Regions from separate parts of the Homo sapiens genome. Here regions 2, 3 and 4 are each linked to region 1. The links come from fine-mapping of genetic effects on gene expression. A gene starts in region 1. Each other region holds a variant in brackets. All regions are shown on one strand. Distances are between the middles of the regions.

Evidence for each region. PIP is the estimated chance that this variant, and not a neighbour inherited with it, causes the effect.
Region 2: its variant is the best candidate, but not a certain one, in a credible set for the expression of TGFBR2 in fibroblasts (GTEx, PIP 0.52).
Region 3: its variant is the best candidate, but not a certain one, in a credible set for the expression of TGFBR2 in whole blood (TOPMed, PIP 0.67).
Region 4: its variant is the best candidate, but not a certain one, in a credible set for the expression of TGFBR2 in lung (TOPMed, PIP 0.52).

The regions. Positions count from the first base shown.
Region 1 is chr3:30,603,481-30,611,590 of GRCh38, forward strand. TGFBR2 (transforming growth factor beta receptor 2) reads left to right here and starts at 3,121. Exons shown (of 7, transcript NM_003242.6): 1 at 3,121-3,497. The coding sequence starts at 3,404. LOC105377015 (translation initiation factor IF-2-like) reads right to left here and starts at 3,444. Exons shown (of 2, transcript XM_047449400.1): 1 at 2,666-3,444; 2 at 919-2,078. The coding sequence starts at 3,444. The coding sequence ends at 3,004. RefSeq lists a silencer at 3,195-3,294.
Region 2 is chr3:30,249,380-30,257,489 of GRCh38, forward strand. No RefSeq gene overlaps it. Among named protein-coding and RNA genes, the nearest start is that of LINC01985, 270 kb to the right of the region's middle. The variant G/A (reference allele first, on the strand shown) is at 4,560.
Region 3 is chr3:30,646,614-30,654,723 of GRCh38, forward strand. TGFBR2 (transforming growth factor beta receptor 2) reads left to right here. Exons shown (of 7, transcript NM_003242.6): 3 at 3,657-3,847. Among named protein-coding and RNA genes, the nearest start is that of TGFBR2, 44 kb to the left of the region's middle. The variant C/T (reference allele first, on the strand shown) is at 4,346.
Region 4 is chr3:30,232,174-30,240,283 of GRCh38, forward strand. No RefSeq gene overlaps it. Among named protein-coding and RNA genes, the nearest start is that of LINC01985, 280 kb to the right of the region's middle. The variant G/A (reference allele first, on the strand shown) is at 4,794.

The sequences.
Region 1 (8,110 bases):
TCCCTTTCAACAAGAATTTCAAAAGGAAGGGCATCATGACAATTTTTTTTTCTTTTTCTTTTATTTATTTTTTGTTTTTGAGACAGGGTCTCATTCTGTCTTCTAGGCTGAAGTGCAGTGGCACAATCATGGCTCACTGCAGCGTTCGTCTCCTGGGCTCAAGTGATTCTCCCACCTCAGCCTCCTGAGTAGTTGGCACTATAGATACATGCCAACATGCCTGGCTTTTTTTTTTTTTTTTTTTTTTTTAGTAAAGATGAAATCTCACTATGTTGCTTAGGCTGGTCTCGAACTCCTGGGCTCAAGTAATCCTCCCATCTAGACCTCCCAAAGTGCTGGGATTACAGGTGTGGACCACTGCACTCAGCCTGATGAATTTTTAAAATTATCAAATTGCAATATGCATGAGTTTACACATCTATTATTTTTATTATGATGATTTTCAAAAGGCTAGCTTGCACTTGGCAATGCTGAATTCTGATTCTTCTCAATTTCACAGGAGACTGGAGATTAAATCAGAAATGTTAAGGGCAAACAAAATTAAAATCAACATTAATGATGTATCATGGCAAAGACCACCAGTTAAACATTCCACCATAGATTTAAATATCTAGCCTCCAACAATGTAAAACATCTTTGTGATAATTAAGGAAAACAAAGCTTTTGGAATCTATTGGACATTTATTTGCCACATTGTGTTTTCAGGAGAAAGAAAGTACATGTTTGCTATCTGGAGGAACTTGGGCAAATGTAGGAAAAAAAAAAGAAGAAGAAAGAAACCCACATACTTCTCCATTCTTAAGAAAAGGAAGTAGTGGTGACATCATTCTCGGCTAAAATGTAGTCTGTTTATATCTCAAATATTCGGTAACAATGTTTTCTCCAGAGTTATGAAGCAACTAGAACAATCAAATACAATTTTCTTCTAAATCTTTATTGCCTGATTCATTCATTCATCCAACAAATATTTATTAAACATCGATTATGTGTTTGATGCTTAGGGACACAATAGTAAGTGGAGGGAAAGATACATAATACCTGCCCTCAAGAAATTTGGAGTTGAGTGGAGGATAGAAATATAAATTAAAGAATGACACAAATAATTATAAAGTTACAGCTGTTAAAAGAAAAGCATATGGTGCCAAGAGAACGTGTAATACAAGATCTACTCATGGAGGTGAGGGAAAGCTTGCCCATCAAAGAAGTTATGATTCAATCCACGAAGACCAGGAGTTGGCTGGGTGAAGAAAAAAAGGTCAGAGGAAGGAAGTCCACACTGGGGAAGGCTCTAAGCATAAAGGGTAGGAGGATTACAGAGGCATATTCACGAAATTTGGAGAAGGCTTTCAGTAAGCAAGGAGAAGCCAAATGAAAGTTTACGGGAGAGTTGGAGGCTTGAAGACACGTTCAAGGATCTGGTTTTTATCTTCTCTTTATCTCAAGAGCAGTGGGAAGCCATTAAATGATTTTAATCAGAGGGTTGGTATAACTAGTTTTGTATTTTGAAAAGCTGAATTCAGCTCTCGTTTGAGAAACTGAGTGAAAGAGCCCAGAACGGCCGTGGCTGAGGGTGACTCGTGGGAGACTCCTACACAAGCCATGGCAGTGGCATGGGCTGGTGGCAGAAGAGGGAATAGGGAGAAGATTTGGAACTCAATCTTCCTCCATTGACAAAGTCACTCCAGCTTTGGCAAGGCAATTAATTGGTGGGAAAGAAGATGCCTAGCCCTCCTGATTTCACTGCACTTTCTGCATCTTCAACATGAGTACTGGGAAGTGGCAAAACATCCAGAGGCAGCTTGGGTGCTAGGTGGAGCATGAGTTAAAATTCCAGGATGAAGCAAATGAACACTTAGAATGACAGGAAAGATTTGGGAGTTGGGTTTGGGGGAGGGCTATTTACCTTTATTCCCTGGAGACCCTGGCACAAACCCTTGCCTCTGCAATCTTCCTCTCAGGTAAAGGAATTCATTAAATGAATTGCTAGAAGATCTACTGACCAGAGGGCTGTACAGAATCATATCTTTGAGAGTGGGAAGTAGGTTGATCACATAGTTTATTATCCAATCAGGACATATCTGAAAGAGAAAGGGGGTTCTATTAATATTTAAACTACAAAACATGTACACCAGGAATGTCTTGGGCAAATCTGGTTGCCCTAGCAAGAAAGGAAATTTGAAAGTTTATACTGTTCTGCTCCCATGTTACCCCGTTTGCACATGAGAGGGTAAGTATTCTCTTTCTTCACCTGCATTAAGGGAATAAAAGCACAAGCATTCAGGTGACTCCCAACCCACTTTTAATTTTACAGTTTCTGCTATACTCTATACATTCTGAAAATTACATTTCCCACCACTATCACTTCGTGATAGGTGATCATTTACAATTACTCACTGACTCAGTCCCGGGAAGAGGCGGTGCAAAATGGGACGCTCTATCCAGGTGCTCATTAGAAATGCAGAATCTCTGCCTGCCTCCTAGACCTACTGAATTAGAATCTGCATTTTTAAATAAGATTTCCAGGTGATCAATATGTACATTAAAACTTGAGAAAAACCTCTAGACTTCGACCTAAAGAAAAACATTTTACAACTTGACAGTGTATGCACATACATACATGCATATAGACACAACTGAAGCACAAATTTAATGAAGTAGAATTTACCGTTACTATTTTATTTGGGAAAGAAATGTGCTCGCGACTCAATAGATTGGAGTATTCACTCCTGGATCTCAACTTGCAATTTGAAAACGCATCTCTAAAGCACCTAGGAGCAATCTGAAGAAAGCTGAGGGGAGGCGGCAGATGTTCTGATCTACTAGGGAAAACGTGGACGTTTTCTGTTGTTACTTTGTGAACTGTGTGCACTTAGTCATTCTTGAGTAAATACTTGGAGCGAGGAACTCCTGAGTGGTGTGGGAGGGCGGTGAGGGGCAGCTGAAAGTCGGCCAAAGCTCTCGGAGGGGCTGGTCTAGGAAACATGATTGGCAGCTACGAGAGAGCTAGGGGCTGGACGTCGAGGAGAGGGAGAAGGCTCTCGGGCGGAGAGAGGTCCTGCCCAGCTGTTGGCGAGGAGTTTCCTGTTTCCCCCGCAGCGCTGAGTTGAAGTTGAGTGAGTCACTCGCGCGCACGGAGCGACGACACCCCCGCGCGTGCACCCGCTCGGGACAGGAGCCGGACTCCTGTGCAGCTTCCCTCGGCCGCCGGGGGCCTCCCCGCGCCTCGCCGGCCTCCAGGCCCCCTCCTGGCTGGCGAGCGGGCGCCACATCTGGCCCGCACATCTGCGCTGCCGGCCCGGCGCGGGGTCCGGAGAGGGCGCGGCGCGGAGGCGCAGCCAGGGGTCCGGGAAGGCGCCGTCCGCTGCGCTGGGGGCTCGGTCTATGACGAGCAGCGGGGTCTGCCATGGGTCGGGGGCTGCTCAGGGGCCTGTGGCCGCTGCACATCGTCCTGTGGACGCGTATCGCCAGCACGATCCCACCGCACGTTCAGAAGTCGGGTGAGTGGTCCCCAGCCCGGGCTCGGCGGGGCGCCGGGGGTCTTCCTGGGGTCCCCGCCTCTCCGCTGCGCTTGACAGTCGGGCCCGGCAACCCGGCCCCCGGGCGGAAACGAGGAAAGTTTCCCCCGCGACACTCACGCAGCCCGACTCCCGTAGCTGCAGGGATTGTGAGTTTTTCTTGAAAAAGAGAAGGAAAGTTCAGTTGCAAGGGGCGCGGGGCACGTTTGGTCCCCTTTGTGCGAGCAGGAAAGGCGTTGTGTTGGCCGCGTTCGAGGCGAGCCCCCACCCCCGGAAAGGGAAGTTTGAGAAGTTGGTTATCTGAAGGCGGCCGGGGAGCAGCGGCCCGGAGCGGCAGCCTGAGCTGCCAAAGCAGCCAGCGCACCTGGGCCACTCCGCCCATGGCGATGCCGCGTGCCCACCCAGCTCTTTCTGAGCCACCCGTTCAAAAGGCCAGCTCCTCAGTCCTTAGCTCCTGGAGACGGCCACGCTTTCCCTCAGGCCGGCTTCTTGGCCCGGAGTTTTTGGAAACAAGTTTCAAGAAAATAATCGATTTCCAAAAGAAAGTTAGCTGGCTCCACTGACGCCTTGGCATGGATGGATAGGGAGTGGAGATGCTCAGGTGAAACCGAGAATCCCTCACTGAATGCCTACTGGGTGCTAGAGGCTGTAGATTTTGCCTGGAACAAGATAGTCCTGTCTTCAGGGAGTTGATGGTTCTATGCAATTATCGTTTGTTGGAAACCGAAGGGTTAAAATCCTAACTAGGCTACCCACCTGATCGCTGTCTCTGAAGGTTTTTAAGGAAAAAATAAAAATAAAAAAATATATATATATATTATATATATATAAATATATATATAATTATATATATAAATATATATAATATTAATATATATATGCATGCAGGAATGGGGGTTCTTAACTATTTGTTATGGAAAGTGTAAAACCTCTGAGACTTCAAAAGTTAGATTTTTTTTTTTTGGAGACGGAGTCTCGCTCTGTCACCAGGCTGGAGTGCAGTGGCGCAATCTCGGCTCACTGCAACTTTGCCTCTGGGTTCAAGCGATTCTCCTGCCTTAGCCTCCCGAGTAGCTGGGATTACAGGCGCGTGCCACCACGCCCAGCTAATTTTTGTATTTTTAGTAGAGACGGGGTTTCACCATATTGGCCAGGGTGGTCTCGATCTCTTGACCTCGTGATCCGCCCACCTTGGCCTCCCAAAGTGCTGGGATTACAGGCGTGAGCCACCGCGCCCGGCCAAAAGTTAGACTTTTTGCAGCTATGATCCAAATAACAGTATCTGCAGCTGTGGTCTGGGTAACCGAGTATTTGGGCAAGTCATAGAGCTTTTTCTGGGCCTTAGTTTCCTCATCTGTAAAATGGCCAGCTTGAATCTGGGTAATTTTACATCATCTTCATGTTTAACATCTTACGTATCGTGCCCCTCCCCTCCTTTCCCCTGGCTCTTCTGGTGACTTGGAGATGACCCATGTAGACTTTGGATGAAATGTAGAGGAGTTGACAGTCCACATCACCCGGAGGCACTCATTTTATTTATCCAGGGACATGGGCAGATTTACCTTTAGGTTTGTCTAGAAAAAATGCGCATCACGGTCAGTTGTAAATTTTAGAGTGTTTGAAGTGGATTGGGAACTTTTTAAAAATTATGGCATACATTGAAGGTGGCATGGAGATGGAAGCTTTTAATCAAATTAGGAAGAGGCACTATTGCAAGCAAAAAGTCTTGACACACATTTGAGTCCTATGGTTTTAATAAAATCTTAGTGTTTCGTTCTTGGCGTTTTTCCTGCATTGCAGTACCAGAATGTTCAATTGTCTCTCATTTTCCTCCAGACTTTTAAAACCTAAGTGACATTTTGCTAATAAATATTTAAAATGGCACCCTTAATTTTCTGTGGATGTTAAAAATCATTACAACTTTTGTTCCAGATTATAAAAGAAGGAAATTAGCAGGCCCTGATGTTGTTAGTTAGGTTCTGTTTACAAGGATAAGGTTTATGATTTGCAAATTCCAGACCCAATAGTTCACGAGTCACTTTCATTTCATCAATATACACACTTTTAAACAATTAGCTTAAAAACGTGGTGGCTTTTTATTTGGGTATTTAGACAGTTTTACAAGGCCCACAGATTTCATATTTTTATAGAACTGAAGTTTCAAAATGGTTGAATTAATGAATCATTTTGAATTTGTATTCATTTGATTCAAATTAAATTTTCAAAGTTGGCCAATGGTTGAAGACAGATATATTGAAGACGAGAAACCTAATTCTACTTACATTTTAATTTTTCATGTAAGTAAATAGTTTCAGAATTTCTCTAACGTAATTGGTAAACTGAAAACATTTTTTCAAAATATCTTAATGCAAGATAATATATCAGGTAATGAGATTGTTTAATAAACAACAAGCTCCTTTTACGTCACCTAAAAAGGCCCAAAAATCTGTCTTCTGTTTAGTAGCTTCTGTACTTCTGTTTAGTAGTATGCAAAGGATTTAAATAAAAGAACAAATTTCACTAAGAAATAGAAAGTTTTTTTTTCTTCGTTTTTGACTTAATAGATTCACTCTTCCTAAATGATCAAAATTAAGAAATGACTCTTTTGGGGAAAACTGTAAAGTGCACAATAACTCTTCAGGTCTGAAAAATATGACTTTTCAGGTTCCTGGAAGTAGATAGATTCTTATTGAGGACAAAGAATTTGTAAAAGTGTCATAGTGATCAGGTTCTTCACATCACTTTAATAACCTGCTTATTTTGTCAGGGTAAGAGACTAGACATCATTAGGCCCCAAATCTGATCTTCAGTCTACTCGTGCTTTTTTTCCGCCTCATAAAAACACATTTCCACCTTTAGGCCACTCAACATCTTATTTTTAATGAGTTATGATTTATACAAAATACTAATCACATTTTGAACTCATTGCCTTCTTTTCAATGTAGCATTCCCTAATGATGACTGTTGTCTATGTAGTCAACATAACTACTACATGTTTTCTACTCAGTTATGAACATGACTTTTTAATTTTTTCAGTAAGGTTAGTTTTTAACTCTGGATCAATAAGGCACCTCTGATATCATTGCAAAAACTGGGCATTTTTTCTTCTACCTTTTCAACCATATTTATTGAGTATCTCTTGCCAGGCAGGATGCTCAGACCTGGGATACCATCTCAGATGAATAAGACAGACCTGGTCTTTGCCATTGAATTTAACAGCTGGGAGCATGTTATAAGTAAAGAAAAGGATACGTGTTTTAACTGTTTATATTTGAAAGCATTATGGAATACTGGTGTTTTATTTTCTACACCTCATTTTCAAAAGCCTCATTTTTTTTTGTTGTTGTATGCACTAGGAGGATGTGCATGTTGAATGTTTCCTTCTAGGTCCCATTGAATGTATTTTTGAATCAATTTGTTGTCTCTTTCCTATCCCTGCCTTGTCACGGAGCCCCAGTTGGGCAGCCTTTAATTGCATTCTCCATTCCATAGCCAGCATGATGGACCCAATGCGTTCATTTAGTGCTCTCTTTGAGGATAGGCTGGTGGTAGAAGAGTGTAGGGTATAAACTTTGGAATCAGGCCGTCCTGGGTTCCAGACCCACTTGCCATGTACTGGCTGTGTAGCCTGTTGTAGTTGCTTTACCTACTAGTCATCCCTGGTCTCATTTGTAAAATGAGGATTATGGAGTTATGGTGAGGATTAAATAAAATATTGTTTTAAAGTATTTAACATGGTGCCTGCAACATAGTAAATGCTCAATAAATATCAGCTTCTGTTATTACTATTAACTCCTTAATTGGGCTTACCAGGGGCCTCTGACCTGGTTCCCATTTGACTCTGCTGCTTCACATCCCACCACAGCCCACATTTTCCCAGTCTATTTGTGTCACTACACATACACACAATGTGAGCAATTTAGGCAGCTGTTCCTTTGTTCAGGATGTCTGGAACTCCTGCTACCTGGCTAATTTTCACTCATCTTTTAAGACGTAGTTCAAGTGTCATCTTCTTGAGGAAACCTGCTTTGAATGTCCCAGTTTGAGGTAAATGTCTCCTATGAGATACAGACCTCTCACTTAGCTGGTAACAATACCAAGCCAAAGTCATATCTTTACGTAACTCTCTTGCCCATTATACCTTTAATCCTCTCAATCTTATTCAGTTTTCTATCTCTGGGATCTCTGGCAGTGCCTGACACATCATTTAGCACCCAGGAAGTGCTGAGCTGAGCCTCCACTTCATCCTACTGTATCTAATGCAACTGAGGTCGAGCATTTAACTAAGCAGTCACTGTTTGTTAGGTGTTTGGTCCAAATAGTAAAATCTTTACTTTCAGTTAGAATAGTTTTAGTTCTGATCACAATAAGTAATTTGACTGTTTTTGAAGTATGGAATTGGTTCTTGTATTCTCATGAAATATGGAAAAAGATGTTTCAACTTCTGACAAACATGATGGAAAGCTGCTAGAAGTTTTCATGCAATTCCTTTAGCCATAAATTTTGAATCAGTGTAGGGCCTTGAAAGCCACTGCAAAATTTTAAATAAAGTCACCAGAGGAATTATCCAGTAGATACTGATTCCTCTTTTTTTT
Region 2 (8,110 bases), 350 kb before region 1:
TCTTTGCACTGGAGCTTCCCATTGGGTTGGCTGGGACTTTCTCAGAGCTTTGCTGCAGTATGGGGCCTTTCCTAGCGAAAACTCTGTGTTCTTCCCCCTCCCTTTCACAGGTCTCAGACCTATGGACTGAAGGTGCTCTCTGCCTAATTCTGCTTCTTTCCCCCTTTGGATTTCATGGCATTTCTCCTAATTCTGACTATTTCTCCTAATTCTCCTATTTCTAACTCCATCTTGGTGCCTGCTTCCCAAAAAGCTCAACTAATACAAGGAAGATCTAAGAATCTAGAACTGGAGAGAAAGGACTAGGCTGGAGATCCTGGTTTGATATTTTCAGCCCTTAGGAGGGGGTTGTAGTCATGACCAAGAATGATATCTATAGATTATGTGTGAGGTCCTTCTTCCACATAGCACCTATTGCACATTTAAGTTAAAGGTCTAGGACTACCCAACTTCACACTATGTACAGATAGATCTAGCTAGTCTCACTTCATCCTTCTTATTGTTACTTTTAGTCCTTGAGTAAAAGGCTTCCTTCAAACTCTGTAAACAAATAGACACCATTAGAGTTTGGGTCAATAATTTTATGCCCAATATAAGAAAAAAATACACAGCTACCCCTTAGAGAATGGTATCTAATTAAGGCTGTTTCTTAGTTGTTGATGAAGCATATTACCCATCTGTGGGTGATGTGGAGAAAATGTGACAATTGGGGAATTGGCCTTGCCACCAGCTAATTGTAGGGCCAAGAACAATCGTTCATCCCATAGCATTGATGGGGTAGATCCTTCCCCCAGTTGGAGGGCTCAGCCTCTCTCATCTGAACTTTCCACTGAATGAACTATACACAGAAGAGCCAGTTTCATTACAACTCTTAGTGCTCTGTTTCTCCATTTGTCCCTCTTGTCTCTATCCAGCCTCCCTTGATGGGTCCCACATCTTTCATATTGATTCCATTTTCAGAATTTCAGTTAGAAAAGTTCTTTTCCCATTTTAGCTCAAGAGTTCATAATAGGACTTGATTGTGTCATCTTATTTCTGTAATTTTATTAGGTTCAGAACAACTTTTGGGGGCATTTTGTCACATCTTTTACATGTACTCCCCGTTCAAGCCTTAATGTTGAAGTAAAGTGCTCTAAAGAAGACAGTGTCCTGCAGCAGATTAGAATAATTTAAACTCTAAAGCAGAGTTTGGCAAACTTCTTTTCCAAAGAGCAAGATAGTAAATATTTTACACTTTGTGGATCCTGTGGTTTCTGTTACAACTACCAGCTCTACCATTAAAGAGCAAAAGCAGTCATAGAGAAGGCACAATTGAACTTTATTTTTAAAAACATGTGGTAGACAAGATTTCGCCCATGGACTGTAGTTTGCCAACCTCTGGCCTAAAGCACAACCCAATACTTTTTAAATCCTTTAAAACAGAAAGCAAAAACATTTACAACATTTACATTGTAAATATATATGTGAAAAGTTATGTAATAAGCAATGAATTTTCTAGCAACAATTTTTTGGTCGTCTCAAATTTCTATTTATCTGACTATAAATTTATGCGTCATATTTTTATACTTTTACTTTTAATGAATTAAAATTGTCATTGTTGAGTGCAGGCTGCTATAAAATAAAACTTAGAATGCTTGAATTTCATGAAGCAATCCATTAGTTCTTGTCATTATGACCTCGTAAAAGTAGAAAATATTTTGAAAGCTGAATCAGTTTCCAGTTTATATTCATATGTACTTGTTTGCATTTTACAATTTTTTTTCCATCTTTTTTTATTAGTTTGAAAGCAAGGCCTATTTAAATTCTGGAGCTTTTCTCGGAAATTTCACAGTCCTCATTCCATGATGAAGGTGGTGACTAGTTGCCAGGGAGATGATTACCAAAGCTTCATTGAGGTTTGTGATTTCTGGCGGGAAATGAGCAGCAAGAACAAGTAAATTTTTTACGGCATTTTTAAATTTCAAAGCTAACCTTTAAATTGACCCTGTCATATTATCACCGGGACTATGTAGTTTTAATTACTTCTACTGGTTATAAGTTGTTGGATATTAATACTGAAGCTGAGCTGTCTGGAACACAAAATTAGATATACCCGTAGGCCATATCCTGTATTCAAACCTGTGTTCTCTCTCTGGGGAGAAAGAACTAGAAGAATGGCTTCTCAAGGTTTCTGAATGTTGTTAGGTTTCTTTGTAAATGAGAGATAGAAAATATAAATTTATGAGTTTTTGCCTCCTGACACATTTGCATTGGCAATTTTTAGGGTAGACTAGTGGGAAGAAAGTTGGATTGGTAATTGAAATTAGACTCAAGTTCTGATTGTGTTACATATCTCATTAGACTAAAGTTGTCAGATTTAGCAAATAAAAATATGGGATGCACAATTATATTTTTATTTCAGATAAACAATGAATACTGTTTTAGTATATGTATGTCCCATGCAATATTATACTAGAAATTATTCATTGTTTAACTAAAATTAAATTTTAACTGAGCATTCTGTATTTTATGTGGCAGCCTTTCCTTAGAGAAATCACATACATAATCTTTCTGAGCTTCCCAGTATTTTCACATTAGATTAGTTTTAATCTAAATACTTTTAGCTTTAATAGGATTTTCAAGGTTAGGAAAGGCTAACTGCTATAACAAGTGATCCTCAATTCTTAGTGACTTAATACAACTTGAGGTGTTTTTCTTGCTCACATCTCAGCCAATGGGGTTCAGTGAGCTGTCTTCCACATGGCAGCTTAAGGACACAGGCTCCTTTGTACAGCTTCATCATGTTTAAAATATGGTCTCAATAAAATTAAATGGTAAAATACACCCCTCCCATTGGTGAAAACCTGTCATGGTTACTACCTAGACTTAAGGTGCTGGTGAATGTTAAATTAACCATAGTCCTACAAAGAAGAAATGGCTTTTGTGCATCTCTAGCCAATTTTCACCACATGTGTTACTTTTGCTCATCTACTCACATTCATATGTCTGGCACTACTTTAGGCACTGGAGATAAAGTAGTGAACAAACTGGATAACTTTCTTTGGAAAGTTTTGTTCTAGTTGGAAGAGATAGGAAAAAACAAACAAAAAATAACTATATATCAGGTACTATGAAGAACAATACAGCAGTATACAGGGAAAGAGAGCTAATGGGAAGTGTATTAGACAGAGTTGTTGGGATCTTTGTGACAAGCTAATATCTGAGCAAAAGGAAATGGGCATGTCTGTAGAAAGAGCTTTCCATGCAGAAGAGGCAGCAAGTACAAGCCCTAGGGCAAGAATGCACTTGGTGTGCAGAACATTTAGAAGGCTGAGGTGGCCAGAGCACAGTGAGCAAGGCTGGGAGTGGTAGGAGAGTAGGTCAGAGACAGGCCATTGTAAGGATTGTGGGTTTTACTCTGAGATTTGAAGCCATTGAAGTGTTTTGAGCAGAACAGTGATATAAGAACAAGAAATCTTAAAAGTCAGTCATTTAAAACTTGTATTACTTTGTTGAGTATATACTGCAGAGTTTATGTTAAACTATCTAGGGCAAGGCTGTAGCAAAAGATCAGTCATGACGCTGTTATAATATTCCAGGTGACAGGTGATGCACCTGAATAGACATAGTGAAGTTGGTAGGAAGTGGATGCATTTTGAATACATTTCAGAGATAGAGAAGAGATTTGCTTAAGGTGTCATGTAACACAAAATGAAGAGGCAAAGCTTATACTGAAGTTGCAGGCATGATCCACTGGAAGAATAGACTGACATTTACTAACATAAGTCTATGGGAGGAACTAGTATAGGGGTATTAGAGATCAGGCGGGTTCAATTTTGATAAAGTTAAATTTAATGTGCCTTCAATAAGTTAAAATAGCCATTGAATGAGTTAGATTAGTTATCCAAGTGGAGAATTATATCCAGGATTCATTAGAGAGATTGAGGCTACAGGTGCAATAGAGTCATCATGGTACCAATGGCATTCAAGCCTTGAGATTGGAGATGATCACCAATGATTGTGGACAGAAAAATGAAGAGGTCCAAGGACAGAGCCTTGGAACACCCCAACATTAAGCTGTCAAAGAGAAGAAAAAAAAATCAGCCAAAAAAATATTGAGAATGTGTAGCCAAAGAGCAAAAAACTATTAGGAATATGTACGCAGAGAGGTAATTCAAGGAAAGATTCAATTAAAAAGCCAATGGAATCAAAACTTCAAATGCAACTGCTTGGTTAAATTATTTAATTCAAATTAAATAATTTTATTTAATCCAAATTAAAGTATTAGATTAAGCAAATTGAACATCTTTGGGGACATTTAAAGATGGAGAGATGGAGATGAAAGCTTAAGTAAAGTTAGGCCAACTTCCAGCCACTTGAACTAACTGAAGTTGGTTCAATATAGAATGGGAGGAAAGTAGAGGCACAGGTACAGATGATTCTGAACAGTTTCGCAGTAAAATAGAGCAGATAATTTATTACTTCTTTAAAGTAAATCTAAATTAGTCCCCAGTTTGCTTTCACTAATCCCATAATCATTTACTGCATGTCAGTTACATAAAAGGCATGACACCAGGTGC[G/A]ATAGATACAAAGATAACTATGACATGCTGCAAGCTTGCTGCACTCATGATTAGGGAGAAAGAGGTGCAAACAAGAGATTACAGGTCAGTGTGGAATGTGTTAATGAAGGTCCAATTAGAGTGCTATGGTAGTGTGCTGAAAAATGGCAGTGACTCAGCCTTGGCTGGTCAGGGAACAATTGTTTAAAAGATACCTTTAAAAGATAATTGGGCTTCAGCAGATGGTTAAAGACCTAAGGATGTTCCTAGTGAGAGATATGGCATATGCAAAGTCTGGAGAGCATCCATCTCTAATTCTGTTGGATTTATAAATCTTTCCCCACATTCTATTGAAGTCGAGCTCCAGATACATTCTTCAGTGTTTGGAAGTCCTCCTCATCTTCCCACATGACTCCTCTAGTCCCTACACTTATATGCAACCCACAACATGCTTCGTTATTGCCATTCAAAGTATGGTCCTCATAACAGCAGCATCACATGTGAACATTTTAGAAATACAAATCCTTGGCTCCCATCCCACACCTACCGAATCAGAGTCTCTGGCGGTGGTACCTAGGAACCTATATTTTAACAAATCCTTCAGGTAGTTCTGATGCAGCTAAAGTTTCAGAAGCAACTTGTCCAGGTGCCTACAGATTTCTTCTTTTTTAAAAATTTTGCCCTTCTTAGCATTCAGAGGAAATGCTCATAATTAGGGTTACATGTTCACTAATTTAGTCTTTCCCTATCTACTGATAAAAAGTTATTTTGTTCTGAGTTCCAACATGCCATTAGCAGACGCTTCCATGAAAATAATCAAGTAAGTAACCACAAATTCCTAAAGTGTTGTTCTTTAGGGAGTACTTGCATTTTAGCCAAATTTTGAAAGGACATTTCTGCTGAAGAAAGCTGAAGTGAGAGATATTTGCCTGTGTATATATCTAGAAAAAACTTTTTTAAAATTTTGTTTTTTATTTTAGATTCATGAGGTAACATGCAGGTTTGCTATGTTGCATAATGCTGAGGTTTGGCTTCTAATGATACCATTGCCCAAGTAGCAAACATACTATCCGATAGGTAGTTTTTCAATCTTAACCTCCTTCCCTGCTTTTGCAGTCCCCAGTCTCTATTGTTCCCGTCTTTGTGTCCATGTGTTCTCAATGTTTGGCTCCCACTTATAATTAAGAACATACAGTTTTTAATTTTCTGTTTCTGTGTTAATTGACTGAGGATAATGGCCTCCACCTGCATCCATATTGCTGCAAAGGACATGATCATGATTTTGTTCTTTTTTACGGCTGCATAGTATTCCATGGTGTATATGTACCACATTTTCTTTATCATATCTACTATTGGTGAGTACCTGAGTTGGTACCATGTCTTTGCTATTGTGGATAGTGCTGTGATGAACATATGAGTGAAAATGTCTTGTTGGTAGAGTAACCCCATTACTGGGTATATACCCAGATGAATATAAATCATTCTACCATAAGGACACATGCATATGAATATTCACTGCAGCACCATACACAATAGCAAAGATGTGAAATCAACATAAACACCCATCAATGACAGATTGGATAAAGAAAACTTGATACACATACATCATGGAATATTATGCATCCATAAAATGAATGAGATCCTGTCTTTTGTGGGAACAGGGATGGAGCTGGATGCTATTATCCTTAGAAAACTAATGCAGGAGCAGAAAACCAAATACTGCAGGTCCTCACTTACAAGTGGGAACTAAATGATAAGGAACTTATAAACACGAAGAAGGAAACTGAACACTGGGGTCTACTTGAGGGGGAGGGCTGAAGAATGGAGAGGAGTAGAAAAGATAACTGCTGGTTACTGGGCTTAATACTTGGATGATGAAATAATACGTACAACAAACCCCCACGACACGTATTTACCTGTGTAACAAACTTTCACATGTACTCCCAACCCTAAAATAAAAGTTAAAAAAAATTTATTTTCATTTGGGTATATACCCAGTAATGAGATTGCTGGGTCAAATGGTAATTCTATTTTTAGTTCTTTGGGAAATTTCCAAATTGCTTTCCACAGGGGCTGAATTAATTTGCATTCCCATCAACAGTGTATAAGTGTTTCCTTTTCTCTGCAACTTTACCATCATCTGCTATTTTTTGACTTTTTAATAATAGCTATTCTGACTGGTGTGAGATGATATCTCACTGTGGTTTTGATTTGCATCTCTCTGATGATTGGTGATTTTGAGCATTTTTTTTTCATATGTTTGTTGGGCTCTGGTATGTCTTGGAAAGATACTTTATAATAAGACTCAGGCACACCAAAATTTAGCACCTCACATCATTGATCATTGAATAAAACCTTGAGACAACCATCAGCATTTCATTAATGAACGTTTATTAAGCACTTTATTTAATGAACCTCCTAGGCTGCAGGAAAGAACAGCACAATTACTTTTATAAGTTATAAAAAATTCTTGGATCCTCCTACCATCTTTTCTAAGGCCTACTCATTCTATTTTCCTTTGAAATAATCTAGGTTTAAAATAAGTCTTCTTATTTCTTACTATTCTGAAAAATGTCAATTCAAAGCTGAGCAAGATGGACTTTCCACTTTTCAAACAGATTAGTATCCCTGAGTCATTTTTAGAAGCTCTGTAAGGAGGATCAAGTGTGCACACTTAGAAAATGCCCTCAATCAAAGTGAGGATCATACACAGTAGGGCTCACCATGAGTGTCCCTGGAATGTGAACTATTTTCACAAGACTGTCTCTTCCTACTGCTATCTTTCTCTTTACGTGCTATCCTCACCACCCCCAGAAGATTCCATGTATCTCACAGGAATCCAGAAGCCTTATGTTTCACTGCAAATGACTCTCTGGAAAGTAACTAGAAATAATAATAGCTACAGCTATTACATTTACTATATTCCAACAGCTAAGTGATTTAGAAATGTTATCTCATTTGATCTTTGCAATGGTCCATGAGGTAATTTTTATTAGACTTATCTTAAAGAGGCTGAGAGAAGTTGAAAGAAACTTGCTTACTCAGATAGCAAACTCAGGTCTACTGAACTCAAAAGCCACGATATTTTTTTATTTCACAAATGCTCAGTCTGTAACATGCCATTTTGCTGCTTTTTCCAGGGATATTTGTGTTTAGCATAATCTGTGATAACAGAATGGGTTTGTACTTCCTTGAAGGAACTTGGACACTGATGAACAGGTAGAGATGACCTTATTTGGCTGGCCATGGAAGCCTGAAATCATGCTATGGGTATTTGTTTTGATACATGAAAATAAGACTTATGGATAAATGATGATGACAGAGATGTCTTCCCTGTCAGAGTGAAAGCTTTCTGTAGATCTTTCTCCATACAAGTCAAAGCATGTCCTTAAAACAATTAGGAACCTCTGTTTTGGATAGAAGGAATTATTTTCACAAATCGAGTGTTGTAACCTCCCTAAATTCTATCATTTTCTGGAAGGAATATGAACACCAGAAAGTTTCCAAATACTCTCAGCAGTGTACAACTGTTGGGTGTGAGTAAACCCAAGCCAAGTGTGAACCATATCAGC
Region 3 (8,110 bases), 43 kb after region 1:
GTTTCCCAACAGCAGAACAGGCTTCCTTTTCTGTAAGCACCAAGTGAAGTTCAGGAGAGGCTGGATGACCATATGTCAAATAGAATGCAGGAAAGATTGAGACACCAGACTAGATGGCCTCAAAGCTTCCTTCCGTGGTTTCTTAAATATCTACGGTGGTGTGAGCACTTGCTTTTGCAACCCAAAAAGGCTCTTTTAATTAAGATTTTTGTTTTCCTGACCAGTAATACAAGCCCAAATCATTAAATGTGAATCAAGTCTCTCTAGAATAGAGGCTTTGCTAGCCTCAAAAAAATGTGAGCATGTCGAAGAGAGGAGGCCTCCCTGTCTTTTCTGTGTCCCAGCTATAAAGGGTAAATACAATGAACATTATTTTGACCTGTGCTGGCCAAAGAAAATTCTCCCGTGAAGCCAGGGGTGTTGATAATGAGAAGGGGAAGTATAGGGTACGCTATAGTGCCCTCCTTGATCCTCCTTCATGACCAAGGCACTCATTCCCTGGGAGTGTTGGCTGTTGAAGGATCACTGCTGAGCCTTCCCTCCAGTGATGGGAGCTGCCTCATTCACGTTGGACACTTTTCATGGGTAGCCATCATCCCATGGCTAGTTGATGCAGAGAAACAAATTCCTGGTTATTTTGCCATAATGTGGTACATCTTTGAAGGACATCCCATTTTCAGAGTTTCCAAGGCATTCACTGAGGCCTTTGCTGCAACCTGCATTATAGTTTAGCTTTTTCCTTCTGTGCAATACTGTTGCCTTTAGTCGCTTACAGATGCATCTCCAAAAACCTCCTGCACAGAACTCTCACAGCCTCAAGGTCTGTTTCCAGGAAACCTAAACTAAGACAGGAGGCTATTGTAAAAATAGCCAGTGTGGAAACTGAAAGGCTCTACTATGATTGTAGATTTCAGTGTTGTTGTTTTTTTAATCAGTTTTAGTGTTTTTTCATTCATTCATTCATTCATTCATTCATTTAACTAATGTCAGTTGTGTGCCCATTCCATATAAAATGCTTAAGCTGCCTCCAAGGATAGAAATATTTTATAACCAAAATTATTATTATTATTATTTTTAAATTGAGAGGGAGTCTCCCACTGTTGCCCAGGCTGGAGTGCAATGGCGTGATCTGGGCTCACTGCAACCTCTGCCTCCCGGGTTCGTGCGATTCTCCTGCTTCAGCTTCCTGAGTAGCTGTGATTACAGGTGCACACCACCATCACGTGGCTAATTTTTTGTATTTTTAGTAGAGATGGGGTTTCACTGTGTTGGCCAGGCTGGTCTCGAACTCCTGACCTTGTGATCCGCCTGCCTCGGCCTCTGAAAGTGCTTAGATTACAGGCATGAGCCACCGTGCCCAGCCTCCAAAATTAATTTTATCATGTTGGTTCTTCTTTCAGTGGAAATTGACAACCTCTTCAGTGGCTCAGAGCAAATGTTGCAGGACAAAAAAAGAAGTCCGTATTTACTTCTTTGTATTTACCTTTCCTATGCTCAGCTATATCCAAAAAGAGTTTGAAAAGTTAGCTGTGCCTGGCTGTTACAGGAGTGAGTGGAGAAAGCAGTTAAGGGCTTTACCAGGTCTCAAGTATTACAGTTGTTTTCTCTCTGTGATGTTAGTTCTCTCAGTAGCTAAGAGGTAGAAAACCGGAGGCTCTGGAAGAGCTGCCCAATAATTATAGAGCAGCTTTCTTTCATGGCTCACAGTTCCTTCTTAGGCCTCTATAAGCGTCACAAGGAAAAGAGACCATGCCTTTCTGTGGGCACAGCATACCTTCGTTTTATTACCCAAACCAAAAACAACCTACACACACACACACACACACACACACACACACACACACACACAAAACTGTGGGGGCAGGGAGGAAGGTGTTCTTGTTCCATGACTACAGCTGATTTGAAGACTGCCAAGTAGCTTTGGGGTTAAAGATGGGTAGATTTCCAAATTATACATCATTTGTTGTATGATCATGCCAACTTTCATTTAGTTTCATTTGGTGTCCTGATAGCCACCCTCAACCAATTATTCTGCTTGTCACTCTTCCTGTCACAGCAGGGACCAACTTAGCAAAGCCTTGCTCCTCTTGTGTCTTTCGGAATTCTAGTTTAAGAACCCTTGAGCCCCTTCACAAGCAGACACATGTACCTCCACTGGAGTCAACTCTGGGCTGCATGGATGTTGACACTGGCACCATTCCTGCCTGGATTGTCCTAACCCATACCCTTGCCCTTATCCCTTTGTCAACATATTGTCCTTTAATGTCCTTGACTTAAGCACTAAAAAAGTGGTATTGGTCAAAGTTGCTCTTTCTCTCATGGGGATGGCCCCGCATCTTTTATAGGTGCAAGCTGTGTCTTAGCTGCTTCTTGCTTCTAGCCTGCCTTCCGTTTTCCTTGCTGTGAGCAGTGAGCCTTTGTGCATGGGGCAGGGAGGATTAGGGGAAAATTGGTGAGTGAGTACATGCATGCATTGGCTCATGTGTGCACTCAGAATCTTCATAGAAGATTACTCTAGCAAAACTGACTGGACCAGATTAGCCCTTCCTTCCGCTCCCTCTCTAGACAGAGAGAATGCGATTCAAGACAACAGGTATTTTGCATCTAAAAAGGACAGAGGTGAAAGGGTGGATGTCAGACTAGCCTTGTTGGACAGTCATCCAAGATAGTATGTTCATGAGGGAGCAGAGGGAGGTAGATAGAGAGGTGATACCCTTTTCCAAGAGAGCCAAAATGTTCTTTTGTTCAATTATAATAGTGGGCATTAATCATGTTGTTTAAAAATCTAATGTACACTGACGGCCAATTGAGCATTTCCTAGGGCCCAAGGAAAATGCTATGTGAGAAATTCTCTGAGCCCTGGGCTAAATTAGTCTTCAAATATGTGCTATGAAGTGATACTGTCAAAGTAGTTAGTTTATGACAGCATAAAATATTTCATTGAACTGTAAATGAAGAACACCCTGACATCCCTTTCCATTTCTTTTATTTATTTGTTTTTTTTGTTTGTTTGTTTTTTCTGAATTGCTCCTTTCTGTAATTTGGGAAAGACTGCAGTTCTTTATCTGCGATGTTTCTTCCCGTTTTTCTCAGCAGAACCAGCTGTTGACAAGGAGTATACCCTTTACACGCAATGCTCTGGGGCCCAGCAAACAAAAAAAAGAGGAACTGTGACTATTTCCCCAGGCATGCTCTTTGAAAACAGTATAGCTAGACAGGACAGATTTTGCCACTTAAACTAGGGGTGTGATGTGAGGTTTGCATTACATTCAGGATGGAAGATTTAAAATTATCCTGAGTACCTAGGAATGTTCTTTTTTTCCATGTCTTCCCCTTTAATGATTTAATTAAGACTTAAATATGTAAAGTTCTCCACCAGGACTGCCCCGTGGAACGCTGTCTGCTCCAGGTGATGTTTATAATCACAAATGGGTTCCAAGAATAAACAAAGGAAAAACAGAAAAGAGTAGAAAAGCATAGGAGACTATAGGACAGCCTGCGAATGCTGGAGAACAGGAACCAGCTGCCGTTGTTAGGAACAACTTCATGAAGGAAAAGTATTCCAGATTGCCTTTCTGTCTGGAGGCCATATTATTCATTTATTCTCTTTCTCTCTCTCCCTCTCCCCTCGCTTCCAATGAATCTCTTCACTCTAGGAGAAAGAATGACGAGAACATAACACTAGAGACAGTTTGCCATGACCCCAAGCTCCCCTACCATGACTTTATTCTGGAAGATGCTGCTTCTCCAAAGTGCATTATGAAGGAAAAAAAAAAGCCTGGTGAGACTTTCTTCATGTGTTCCTGTAGCTCTGATGAGTGCAATGACAACATCATCTTCTCAGAAGGTGAGTTTTCTTCTCTTAAGGGTGTGGGACCTGAGATCTGTGCCAATTTTTTGTATCCTTGGTCTGCAGTGTCATAGAGCACATTCCTCCTGTGGTGGATTGCATACAGTGGATTAGGAGCTCATTCAGCTGGTGGAAAGAGGGGCTTGGGGAGTAGCAGGGTTTGTTCTGGTTCTCATCAAATATGGTTGACTGGGGCAAACATTATTATTTGTCTTTGACAAATAGTTTCTTTCACCTAGAGCAGTGTTTCTCAAAGTGCGGCCTCTTGAGCAGCCAGCATCAGTATCACCTGGGAACCTGTTATAAATGCAGATTCTCAGGCCCCACTAAATGAGAAACATAGAGGGTGAACCCCAGCTATCTGTATTTTAACAAGCCCTCCCAGTAATTCTGTGCAGCTAAAATTTGGTAACTATTGTTCTAAAGATTTGGATGGGGTTGTTTAATCTTGGAGGAGGACTTTCTTTATAACTGATGTTGTTTCTTGTACATAGT[C/T]CCAGGATTTGTCTTTAGGGTACTTGTCATCGATCCCATTTGAGAGAAACATTGCAATACAGAGAGGAAATAATAAGCCAAAGTTTACCCCTAGAGCCAGGAGAAGAGTAGATTAGATACTAGCCTCCATCTTTGAAGTTCAGCGTTTACTCAGCTTGAAAGGAAGGCATACACTATTCCCTCAATTTTTAATAAGAAGAGAATTCAGTGGTTTTTAATTACAAAAGTAGTATATGCTCGTCATCAAAAATTTCAAACAATCCAACAGTGTGTGAAAATTAAAAATGAAAGTACATTTTCGTCCTCCCCTCACTCCCAATGCAACAGATCATCTGTATTGACAATGTATTAGATGCACACACGTCTCTATCATTCATTCATATTATCTCCCACTCCATCCTCTCTCCCAATCTCTCCCTGTCTTCCTTTCTCTTTCCCTCCTTTCATCCATCTGTCCATCCTTCCATCCACTCATCCATCTTTCAGTACAACTATCTGATCATACTATAAATATTATTTTGCAACACTTTTTTATACCCAACCACTTTTACAATTCCTTCTAAACAAGATAGAACACATAGATATACTGTACATCTTTTAATTTAGTCTCGAATTTCATATTATCTCCCACGATGGATCTTATCATGTCCCTGTTGATGGATTGTCTTCAGTTTTTCCACTTAATGCTACATTGAATATCTTTGTAAAAATATCTCATGCATTTGTGCTAATATTTCTGCAAGGCAGATTGCCAGAAGTGAAATTTCTAGATTAGAAATATGTGTATTTTAAATTTGAATAAGCACTACTAAACTATTCTCCTCCTGAAAAGGATGTAAGCATATGGATTTCCGTGTACCTTCTCCAACACTGGGAATGGATAAGTCTTTTAATTTTACCAGCGTGGTAGTGTAAATGTTAGTTTAGTCAACAATAGGTCTGATTTAATTAAAAAATCTTTTTGAAATACAAATGCTGGCTCTACACCCTATCTCTGCGGCCATGTGCATTCCACCTGCGAGAAGCTATGTGTCCTCGTGTTTCGTGTTTGGTGCTCAGTAGCACTGCAGATCCAGCTTGTTCTCTTCCTGTGTCCTTCACCTACTGCCATTCTCCCTATCTTCCTGTCCAACATCCCCCAGGCCAACTTCTCAGTGAACTGAAGGCAGGCATGCACATCTTGTCAGGGCAACGCTTTCCAGATTACTCTTCCTTCCTATGTTCTCATCCTCATCCTGTAAATGGTCCATTTCTCTCGTTTTCTTTTCTGGTTGTTTTTTTTTTTTTTTTTTTTTTGACGGAGTCTCACTCTGTCGCCCAGGCTGGAGTGCAATGGCACGATCTTGGCTCACTGCAACCTCTGCCTCCCAGGTTCAAGTGATCCTCCTGCCTCAGCCTCCTGAGTAGGTGGGACTGCAGGAGTGTGCCACCATACCCAGCTAATCTTTGTATTTTTAGTAGAGACGAGTTTCACCATGTTCGTCAGTCTGGTCTCGAACTCCTGACCTCAGGTGAATAACCTGCCTTGGCCTCCCAAAGTGCTAGAATTACAGGCATGAACCACTGTGCTTGGCCTCATGTTCTTTATGTGATTTGAGTTAGGAGGGAAATCTAAATAGTTTAATCACATGAAACATGGTAACACCTGATATTCTGACTTACCAGGTCAGCTTTCTTCAAGTAGATCACCTTTTAAAAGAAGGCCTAGGCTAAGCCAAAGGAATTAATCTCTGACAGTAGAATACCCAGGCATGTTTACTAGCATTGAAGAAACTTTTCTCTCCTTCTGTATACCAGCTTGTCTACAGTAGACAAGTTTATTTCCTCCAAAAGGACAAAAGTTGATAAATGGCCTGCAAGTTGGATCTATATTTTATCATTGAATATCTTTGTCAAAATATATCATGCATTTTATATTTTACTATGAGCCTTTCAGATACTAATGACTTCCATTTTCAGAGTCTTTCAACTCAAGTGATCATCATGGGCATCCCTCATATTTTTCCTCTTATTTATTCTCAGACTTTCTTATGAAGTGAGATAATAAGCATAAAGACAATTTCTCACTGTACAGTACAGGAAGCCTTTCACAGCTGACGACTCAAATGTCTGGGTGATTTCAGAGTCTTCTAAAATGCTCCAGAAGGTAGGGGGTGTTTGCTTTTTAAGCATCTCTTTTCTGTGTGGTGGGATATTTCTTCCACCTAAAACAGCAGACATTAGGAGCAACATTTTATATTCCATTTCTCCCCTTATTGCCACCATCTCTTCTTTATCTTGAGGAATGAAAACTTTTTTTTTTTTTTTTTTTGAGACAGAGTCTCACTCTGTCACCCGGGCTGGAGTGCAATGGTGCAGTCTCGGCTCACTGCAACCTCTGCCTCCTGGATTCAAGCAATTCTCCTGCCTCAGCCTCTCAAGTAGCTGGGATTACAGGCATCTGCCACCATGCCCGGCTAATTTTTATGTTTTTAGTAGAGACGGGGTTTCACCATGTTGATCAGGCTGGTCTCAAACTCTTGACCTCAGATGATCCACCTGCCTCAGCCTCCCAAAGTGCTAGGATTACAGGCATGAGCCACCACACCCGGCCAGAATGAAAACTCTTAATGTTGATTTGTCTACTCCAAGTCCAACAAGGTGGTGAACACAAAAGCTATGAAGTGCATTGTGGCTGTATTATTAGTAGTACAGTACTCTTGTTGGCAAGTTCCTGATCTGCAGCTACACAATGGATGATAATTATGTACATCTACCTTTTTTAATATGTAAGAAAAAAAAGTTGAGCCACAAGATTTTAAGTATGGATCTTTATTTCTAGTGCTACTATTAATGATAGTTAATATTCAGAGAAAACATACTGTCGCTGTGCAGGGAGCTCAGCCCTTTCCAAGCATGACCTCATTTAATCTTATAGCCACCCCATGCGAGTAGGCACTGTTAGGATCCCTGTTTATGCATGAGAAAACCAGGCTTAGAGAAATTTAACACTTTGTCTACAATCAAACAACTAGTGGGTATCAAAGCTAGGATTTATAATGGGATATGTAAGGCACTAAAACCTGTGAAGGTTTTCCTTTTTTCCTTTTTTAATTCTTTCCTTTTTTCCTCTTTTTATTTCCTTCTTTCTCTTTATATCTCTGTATGTTTCCAAAGAGATAATATATGCATATGATAAAAAATTCAAATGCTAGACAAATTCAAACATCTAGACAAAATGGTGCAGAGATTTAACATTTGTTCCTTTTGTTGTTGTTGTAAATGAGGCTTGGTTGTCTGTAGAGGCAGAGGAACACGGTAACATCTTGACATCAGACACTGGTGTCATAGATGCCCTTTCCTCAGAGGACTGAGATCATGGTTTTTAGAATGAAAGAGTTAAAGAAACCTTGCTGTTTTTTTCTTTGAACCGGGTACCTACCCTTAACCCTGGAATCCCTCAGTGGGGCCTAGTGCCAGTTCCCCTGCCTCCCTACAGTGACCAAGGGCAGGCAGGGGTCAAGAAACAACTAGAATGGGGCTGGGGTCTGCACTGCACAACTGTTCTCTCACATTCATGCTTCCCTCCCAGTCTCTGAAGATTCCCTCCTGCCAGAACATTTTGTGTAGAATTCTAAGGAAATCAGAGTCTATCCCTGTACTAACCAACATATAAAATTCCAATTAGAAGAGAAGTTGTTTGGATTGGTCATGATGGATGGCCTGGTGACAGCTGTCAGTCAGACGAGACCTGATGGGCACCAGGACTGAAGGCAGCAGCACAGG
Region 4 (8,110 bases), 370 kb before region 1:
CCCATCAGACCAACTTGATTAAAAGAGGGTGCTATCAACACTCATGTTAATTATTTGGACTAGTGGTGCATCATTTTGCTTTCAAGCTTCTTAGAGATATTTGCTGTTCTGTTCATGACACAATGCTTGTAATCTGGCCAGCCAGCCAGAAAACACCATTTCAAAAATTTGTGACGTAAACTTGTGGTTTAGTCCGTTTGCACACTGCTGTAAGGACATAACCGAGCCTGAGTAATTTATAATGGAAAGAGGTTTAATTAACTTACCATTCTGCAAGGCTGCGGAGGCCTCAGGAAACACAATCAAGGTGGAAGGGGAAGCAAATATGTCCTTCATCACATCGTGGCAGGAGAGAGAAGAAAGTGCAAGAGGGGAAAAGCCCCATATAAAACCATCAGACCTTCTGAGAACTCACTCATCATCACAAGCACAGCATAAGGGTAAACGCCTGCTGATTAAATTACCCACCACTCGGTCCCTCCCATGACACATGGGGATTATGGGAACTACAATTCAAGATGAGATTTGGATGGGGACACAGCTAAACCATATCAACTTGTGTCAGCTTTTACAAATACTATGTGTAACTCAGTACTAGGTGGGAGAAAGGAAAAAACAAAAAGAAACATTCTGAAAGATGAGGCCATAAATTGTAAGACTTACACTCTTACCACTACTGCTTAGTATCATCCATGGACCAGCAGATCAGTTTCACCTGGGAGCTTAGCAATGCTAATTAGTGTCTGTCACCCCAGGCCTGCTGACTCAAACTAGGCATTTTAACAAGATATTCCAGGTGATTCCTGTGCAAGTCCATTTGAGGGGCACATGGAGGGCTTTTGGGGCAAAAACTCAAGTGGTCTTTTTCTTTTAGACTTTTTTTTAATCATATGTTTTTGGTTTTTGTCTCCTTCTAAACTCGAAGCTCTTAGTATCATCATCATCATTATTATATTTTACATATGATAAAGGCAACCAGTTATACTTAGATGCAGGTAACAAAATGGTAAGTAAGAAAAGGAAATGTGAGATATAGTTGTATATGTGCTTTTTTATTCAGGCATTGAATGACAATCTCTAGAAGCAAGGCTAATGCTCCTATAATTCTGAAGTAATGATAGGTGTCAACTATATTTGGAAATGCCTGCAACAACTATAATGTTATATAAAAATATCTATGACAAAGTCATATTCTGTCAATACTACTGTGCCTTGTTGCTGCATTCATAATTAAAAGGTGTACTAAGTATGAGTTTGAGATTAGTAAAAATTAGATGTCATTTTCTTTCCAACCAAGTTAAACACTGCTGAATTCAGTCCAAGGGCCCCAGGTTAAGAACGTTTGTTCTAAGAGGCTAATGTAGGAAATTATGGGATGTGTTTTAACTTGGTCTTGCTGGAAGGTGGGTGAGGGCTCCATGAGCTGGCTCCATACAATCCTTCCTCAAGTACATGATGAAGGAAGGTGCAAGGAGGCTGATGTTCTTCCACCCCAGTAGGCTATTAAGTGCCCAAGCCCCACTCCCAACCCCTTTGGGGGTTTCTTTGTTCTGAACCATTAAAAGGTTGGGCTGAGGCAGATGGATAATCTGTAAATCCTTCATTTTCTTCATCAGATCTGTTTTCCAAACATTGCCTGATGTTATAGGAATATTTACAGAAAGGGTGTGTTTGTAGTTATTTATGTTTCACATTTATTTACTTAGAATTTTTAAAATCTCATTTTCATTTTGATTTTGTATTCCAAACCAATTAATGGTCTTGGTTGAACAACAAAAACAGACTAAAATTAAAATTATCATAAACAAGCAGTACAATAACAGCCTCATGAAAAAGGTAAAGCAAGCTGATGGTGGGACAAACATTTCACCTTCTCAGTTGATTAATTTTAGATAAATAAGGCAAAATAAACAAACAAATATAGAGCTTGGCATGTGGTATGCATGCAATAAATATTTGATGAATGAATCAAGATATCAGAAAGAAAAATATTTGAAAGGTCTTTCTCTAACAGCCACTACTCATTTTAGCTACACATAATTGACTGGAAATATTCCCATTTTAGGAAGGAATTCTTTAGAGTAAGTGCGCTGAATTTAACATTTATTCATGTTTCTTTAAGTTGTAAGACTTGATAATTTTAGTATAAACGGGTGAACCCTGGGGTCAGGAATTATCTGATGTGATGTTCAGGAAGTAGCTTTGGCACTGTCAAGCAGAAGATAATTTAAAACCACCAAAGCATTCTCATTGTTAATATTTAAAGACTTCTGGGAAATGTGCTCATTTATTTCACAATTTAAAATAAACAAGTCTTAATAGCAACCTTTGAATATCTCTTAACAAAATTATCACCAAGCACCATTAGAAATAGCTTTTTATTGTTTGTGATCTATGAACTCACTCCATAATACTAATGCTTCAATCAGTTGTGACTGAGAGTTATATTCATGACAGATGCCAGAAATGGATCAAAAGCAGATAGAAGAAGCAAGCTGCTACCACCTTGTCCTCATAACATGTGTTCAAATAAAATTTTAAAAGTTCAAGGCTATATAACTTTTGTTTCATTGAAGATATTATAAAAGTAGACTGTTCTGAAGTAATTTTTACTTTTTTCTTCCCCGTTGATCTGAAGCATGCAACCAGGATTCATGGAGTTCTTTTCTGAAATTAATAAGGTTTTTGTTTACTAAGAAGCTTGAGTCTAAAAATCCTTTCTTAAATCCATTTTTGAAAACATCTAGTGTGACCCACTACACACAATTTCTAAGCCTACATCTTGGTAGTGGGCAGAGTAGATATACTCTTGCTCTAGTCCATGACATTATTTGTTATCTGTAAATTTTAGAAGAGATTCTGTATTCATATAGTATATATATATACACACACACACACATATAATAATGTATATTCAATATAGTATACACGCTATGTATTTGTACATATATATTTAAACTATGTAAGTAAACCATATGTAAATGATAAAAATGTTTAAATTATCAGAAAGAGGTATAAAATAAATGTCCAAAATGCAAAAAGAGATTAAAAGAAGGTATGTAAAAATAAAGAAATGATTGAACAATAAGAAAAATGAATAGGTTATTTGAAAAATAAAAGAATCCAATAGAGTTTTTAGAAGTAAATAAGGTCATTAAAATATTTAAGAAAATCCATGGACAAATTAAATAGGATATTAGATTATAAAAAGTATATTATAAAAACTTCGAAGTATATTATAAAAAGTATATTATATTATAAAAACTGAAGTATATTATGAAAACTTTAATGACAAGCAATAGTTTGGTCAAGACACTTGCAACATATAATACAATTTTGGTATCTGAAATATACAAAAAATCCCTATAAACCAGTAAGAGTCCAAGAAAAGCAGGCAGAGGACATAAATAAGCAATCTCAGAGTTATTTGCTAATAAACATAAGAAAAATGTTCAATTTTACTAGAAATTAGCACTATATAATTTTTAATAAATTGTAATACATTTAACTCTTATTATACTAGTAAAAATCAAAATAGCTGACAAATACCAAGTATTGGCAAGGATGTGGAGAAATGAGAACTTTCAAACAACTCTAGTAGAAGTGTAAACTATAACAACTACACTGGAAGATAAAGGGGATACTATCCAATAATTTTAAAGATACATCTAATTATTTACCAGAAATTTCTCTGCTCCAAAGAGTAGATTGTAAGGACTAGGAACATGAACTCAGGAGAAATGATGTCTTAGTTTGAGTCTTGAGTCTGTCACCTAATAGATCTGTGTTCCTAGGCAAATTAGCCTCTCTGAGACTCAGTCTCAGCCTCTTTTCTCTAGAATACTCTCTGTCATGAGTATTAAAAGAGTTCACAGAGGACTTAGTATAATGCTTGGAATAAAATAAGCTCAGTATAAATGTTAATCATAGCCAAACGCTGTTAATAATACCTAATAAAATTTAGCTATTAGCATGTGTACACATTTTAGAAATTCTGGCAGATGCACACAGGAGACAGGAAAGGATGGTCATTGCAGCATTGTTTCCGCTAATGTTAAGTTGGAACCAACTTAAATTTCTCCCACTGTGAGAACGAATAAATAAACTGTGCTATATTTATACAGTGGAATACTACACAGCAGTTAAGGGAATAACCTAGGTCAGGATTGTATGAAACATGGCCTGCTTTTGTTAATAAAACTTAATTGGAATATAGCTATGCCCATTCATTTTAACATGTTACCTATGGCTGCTTTTGCACTGCAGTGGTGGGGTTGAATAGTTGAAGTAGAGAGTATATAGCAGGAAAAGTTTAAAATACTTACAGTCTGGCCCTAAAATTTCCATTGAATTTTTATTTTAATATTATATTTTCATTTTCATTATAATCAAAAAAAATTTTATAAAATTATAATTTGAATATGACTGACCACCTTGAACTGAATATAGACACTTGATTTTAGTGCCCACATTTGATTTTATGCTTTTAATAGCATAGGAGCCAAAAGATATGACCTTAATATTCCTTAGCTGAGAACTAAAGAACAAAGGCAATGATGAGTTTGGGCCAAATAAAGGCCAAATAAAGACAAAAGAGCTTCATGGGGTTTAAGAACAAAGATGTCGTAGAATAGAATCTCTACCCTGATTACATATTAGAGTCACCAGGGAGCTTTTACAACATACCAGTGCCACACAGTCCCACCCATGGCCATCCCTGGAAGAAGGACCCAAGCAAGAATATATTTTAAAACTCCACAAATGACTCTAACGCGCAGTAAGGATTGAGAGCC[G/A]CTGTTTCCGAGCAGTTAACATAGACAACTAGATGGAAGAACTGGACTTTTCAAGATACAACGTGCATGCAACATAATGTGGGCATGCTCATATAAAAAACTCTGCACTTTATAAGATGGTATTCTGCCCATGTAGGAAGGGGAGCAATTTAGCTCAACAACACAGCAGCAACTATTACATGAACAATGCTAATGTAATACTAATTTATATTACTTACGTATTTGGTATTTTTCTTTAAAATTTTTTCTTTTTAATTTTTGTGAGTACATAGTACATAATTATGGGGTACATGAGATATTTTGGTACAGGCATGCAGTGAGTAATAACCACATATCACAGAAAATTAGGTAGTGATTTCCTTAAGCATTAATCCTTTGTGTTACAAACAATCCAATTATACCTTTTTAGTTATTTTAAAATATATAATTAAATCCTTTTTACTATAGTCCCGCTGTTGTGCTATCAAATAAGAGATTTTATTCATTCTTTCTAACTATTGTTTTGTACCCATTAACCATCCCCATCTCCACCCCTTCCCAGTCCCTGGTAACAATTCTTCTATGCTCTATGTCCATGAATTCAATTGTTTTAATTTTTAGATCCCACAAATAAGTGGGAACATGCAATGTCTGTCTTTCTCTGTCCGGTTGATTTCACTTAACCTAATGACCTCCATTTCCATCTGTGTCATTGCATATGACAGAATTTCATTCTTTTTATGGCTGAATAGTACTCCATTATGTGCATGTATCATATATTCTTTATCCATTCATCTGCTGATGAATACTTAGGTTGCTTCAAAATCTTGGCTATTGTGAACAGTGCTACAATAAACACGAGAGTGCTGATATCTCTTGGATATACTGATTTATTTTCTTTTGGGTATATACCTAGCAGTGGGATTACTAGATCATATGGTGACTGTACTCTTAGTTTTTTGAGAAACCTACAAACTCTTCTCCAAAGTGGTTGTACTAATTTACATTCCCACCAACAGTGGACAAGGTTCCCTTTTCTCTACATCCTCACTAGTATTTGTTATTGCCTGTCTTTTGAAAAAAAGCCATTTTTAACTGGGATGAGATGATATTTTATTGTAGTTTTCATCTGCATTTCTTTCATGGTCAGTGATGTTGAGCACCATTTCATATACCTGTTTGCCATTTGTACGCCTTCTTTTGAAAAATATTTACTCATATCTTTTGCCTAGTTCTTAATTGAATTATTAGATTTTTTTTCCTATAGTTTTTTTGAGCATCTTATGTATTCAGATTATTAATCTCTTGTCAGATGGGTAGTTTGAAAACATTTTCTCCCATTCTGTGGGTTATTTCTTCACTTTGTTGATTGTTTCCTTTGCTGTACAGAGGCTTTTAATTTGATGTGATCCTATTTGTCTATTTTTGCTCTGTTTGCCTGTGCTTGTGAGATATTACTCAAAAAATATTTGCCCATTCCAGTGTCCTGGGAAGATTCCCCAATGTTTTCTTTTAGTAGTTTCATAATTTGAGGACTTAAATTTAAATCCTTAATTCATTTTGATTGGATTTTTGTATACGGTGAGAGATAGGGGTCTAGTTTTATTCTTCTGAATATGAATATTCAGTTTTCCCAGCACCAATTGTTGAAGAAAATATCTTTTCCTCAGTGTATGTTCTTGTTGTCTTTGTTAAAAATGAGTTCACTGTAGGTGTGTGGATTTGCTTCTGGGTTCTCTATTTTGCTTCATTGGTCTATGGTTCTGTTTTTATGCAAGTATCATGCTGTTTGGCTTATTATAGCTCTGTAGTATAATTTGAACTCAGGTAATATAATTCCTCCAGTTGTTTTTCTCTTCTTTTCTTTCTTTTTTTTTTTTAACTTAAGAGAGCTTTGGCTATTCTGTGCTTTAGTGGTTCCCTATACATTGTAGGATTTTTTTTTCTATTTCCGTGAAGGATGTCATTGGTATTTTGATAGGGATTGCATTGAATTTGTAGATTACTGGGTAGTATGAACATTTTAACAATATTGATTCTTCCAATCCAGGAACATGGAATATCTTTTCATTTCTTGTGGCCTCTTCAGTTTATTTCATCAGTGTTTAATGCTTTTCATTGTAGAGGTCTTTTACTTCTTTCTCTTTTTCCTTTCCTTCTGCAATTTCTATTATGCATAAGCTGCTTTAATCGTGTCCCAGGGTCTCATAGGCTCTGTGAATTTTTTCTTATTATTTTTTTCTTCCTTTTTCCTAGACTGATTTTTTATTTCACCACTTCAAACTCTGCCAGTGAATCACTAATCTCATCTAGTGAGTTTTTTTATTTCAGTTGTTTTACTATTTAGCTTCAGAATTTTTATTTGGTTCTATTTTATGATTCTTAAATCTTTACGAATATTTTCCATTTGGTAAAATGTTTTTATACATCCTTTCAGTTCTTTAGACACTTTCTTTAGTTCTTTAAACATAATTTTTAGGTTTAAAAATGTCTGGGCTTTCTCGAGGATGGTTTCTATTAATTACTTCTTTTCCTGTGTATGGGCCATGGTTTCATGTTTCTTTGCATGTCTTGTGATTTTTTTGTTGTTGTTGAATAAGGGATATTTTAAGTAGTGTAATGTGGCAACTCTAAAAAGAAGATGTTCCCCTCCCCAGGGTTTGTTGTTTTTTATTGTTGTAGTTGTTGATATTTGTTTAATATTCTTTCTCTGGACTAATGCTGTGATGTCTGTATTTTTTGTAGTGTGTGGCCACTGAAGTAACTGCTCAGTTAGCTTTTTAGTTGGCTGATTAATAATTGGACCAACATTTAGTTAAATGCTTTGAACAAATGTCTCCTAACCTTTGTCAAGTGATTTGAGGATATGTATTGGGGAATGCTTCAATGCTCAGGAAGGCTGTTTACAACTTTACTTAGGCCTTTATTCTGTGCTTGTTCAGAGCCTCAAGTTCAGCCAAAGTGAGAGATTTGAATCTTCTCATGTCTTTCAATTATATGGCCCTGTTTATGGGCATGCCTTTTAGATTCCCAGAAATGTGTCACAGCTTTTCAAAGGTCATTATAGAGGGTTCATTTCTAATTTTTTCTTCTTTTCTTTTTTTTCTCATTCATTTGTTAGCTTTAATATATTCCCGAGACTATGCCTCCTCAGGCAGCTTTGATATTAAACAAATTGTCATTGATTATTTTTGAAAAATGCCTCATGGATAGCACTGTTGGCATAGAGCAAGTTCTGAGTCAGGTCAAATAAAGACAAACCCTGAGAACTGGGATTTTTCAATGAGCTGCTAGGCAGATGAAATAGTGACAGTTCTCTAGCAATGAAGCTTTTTGAG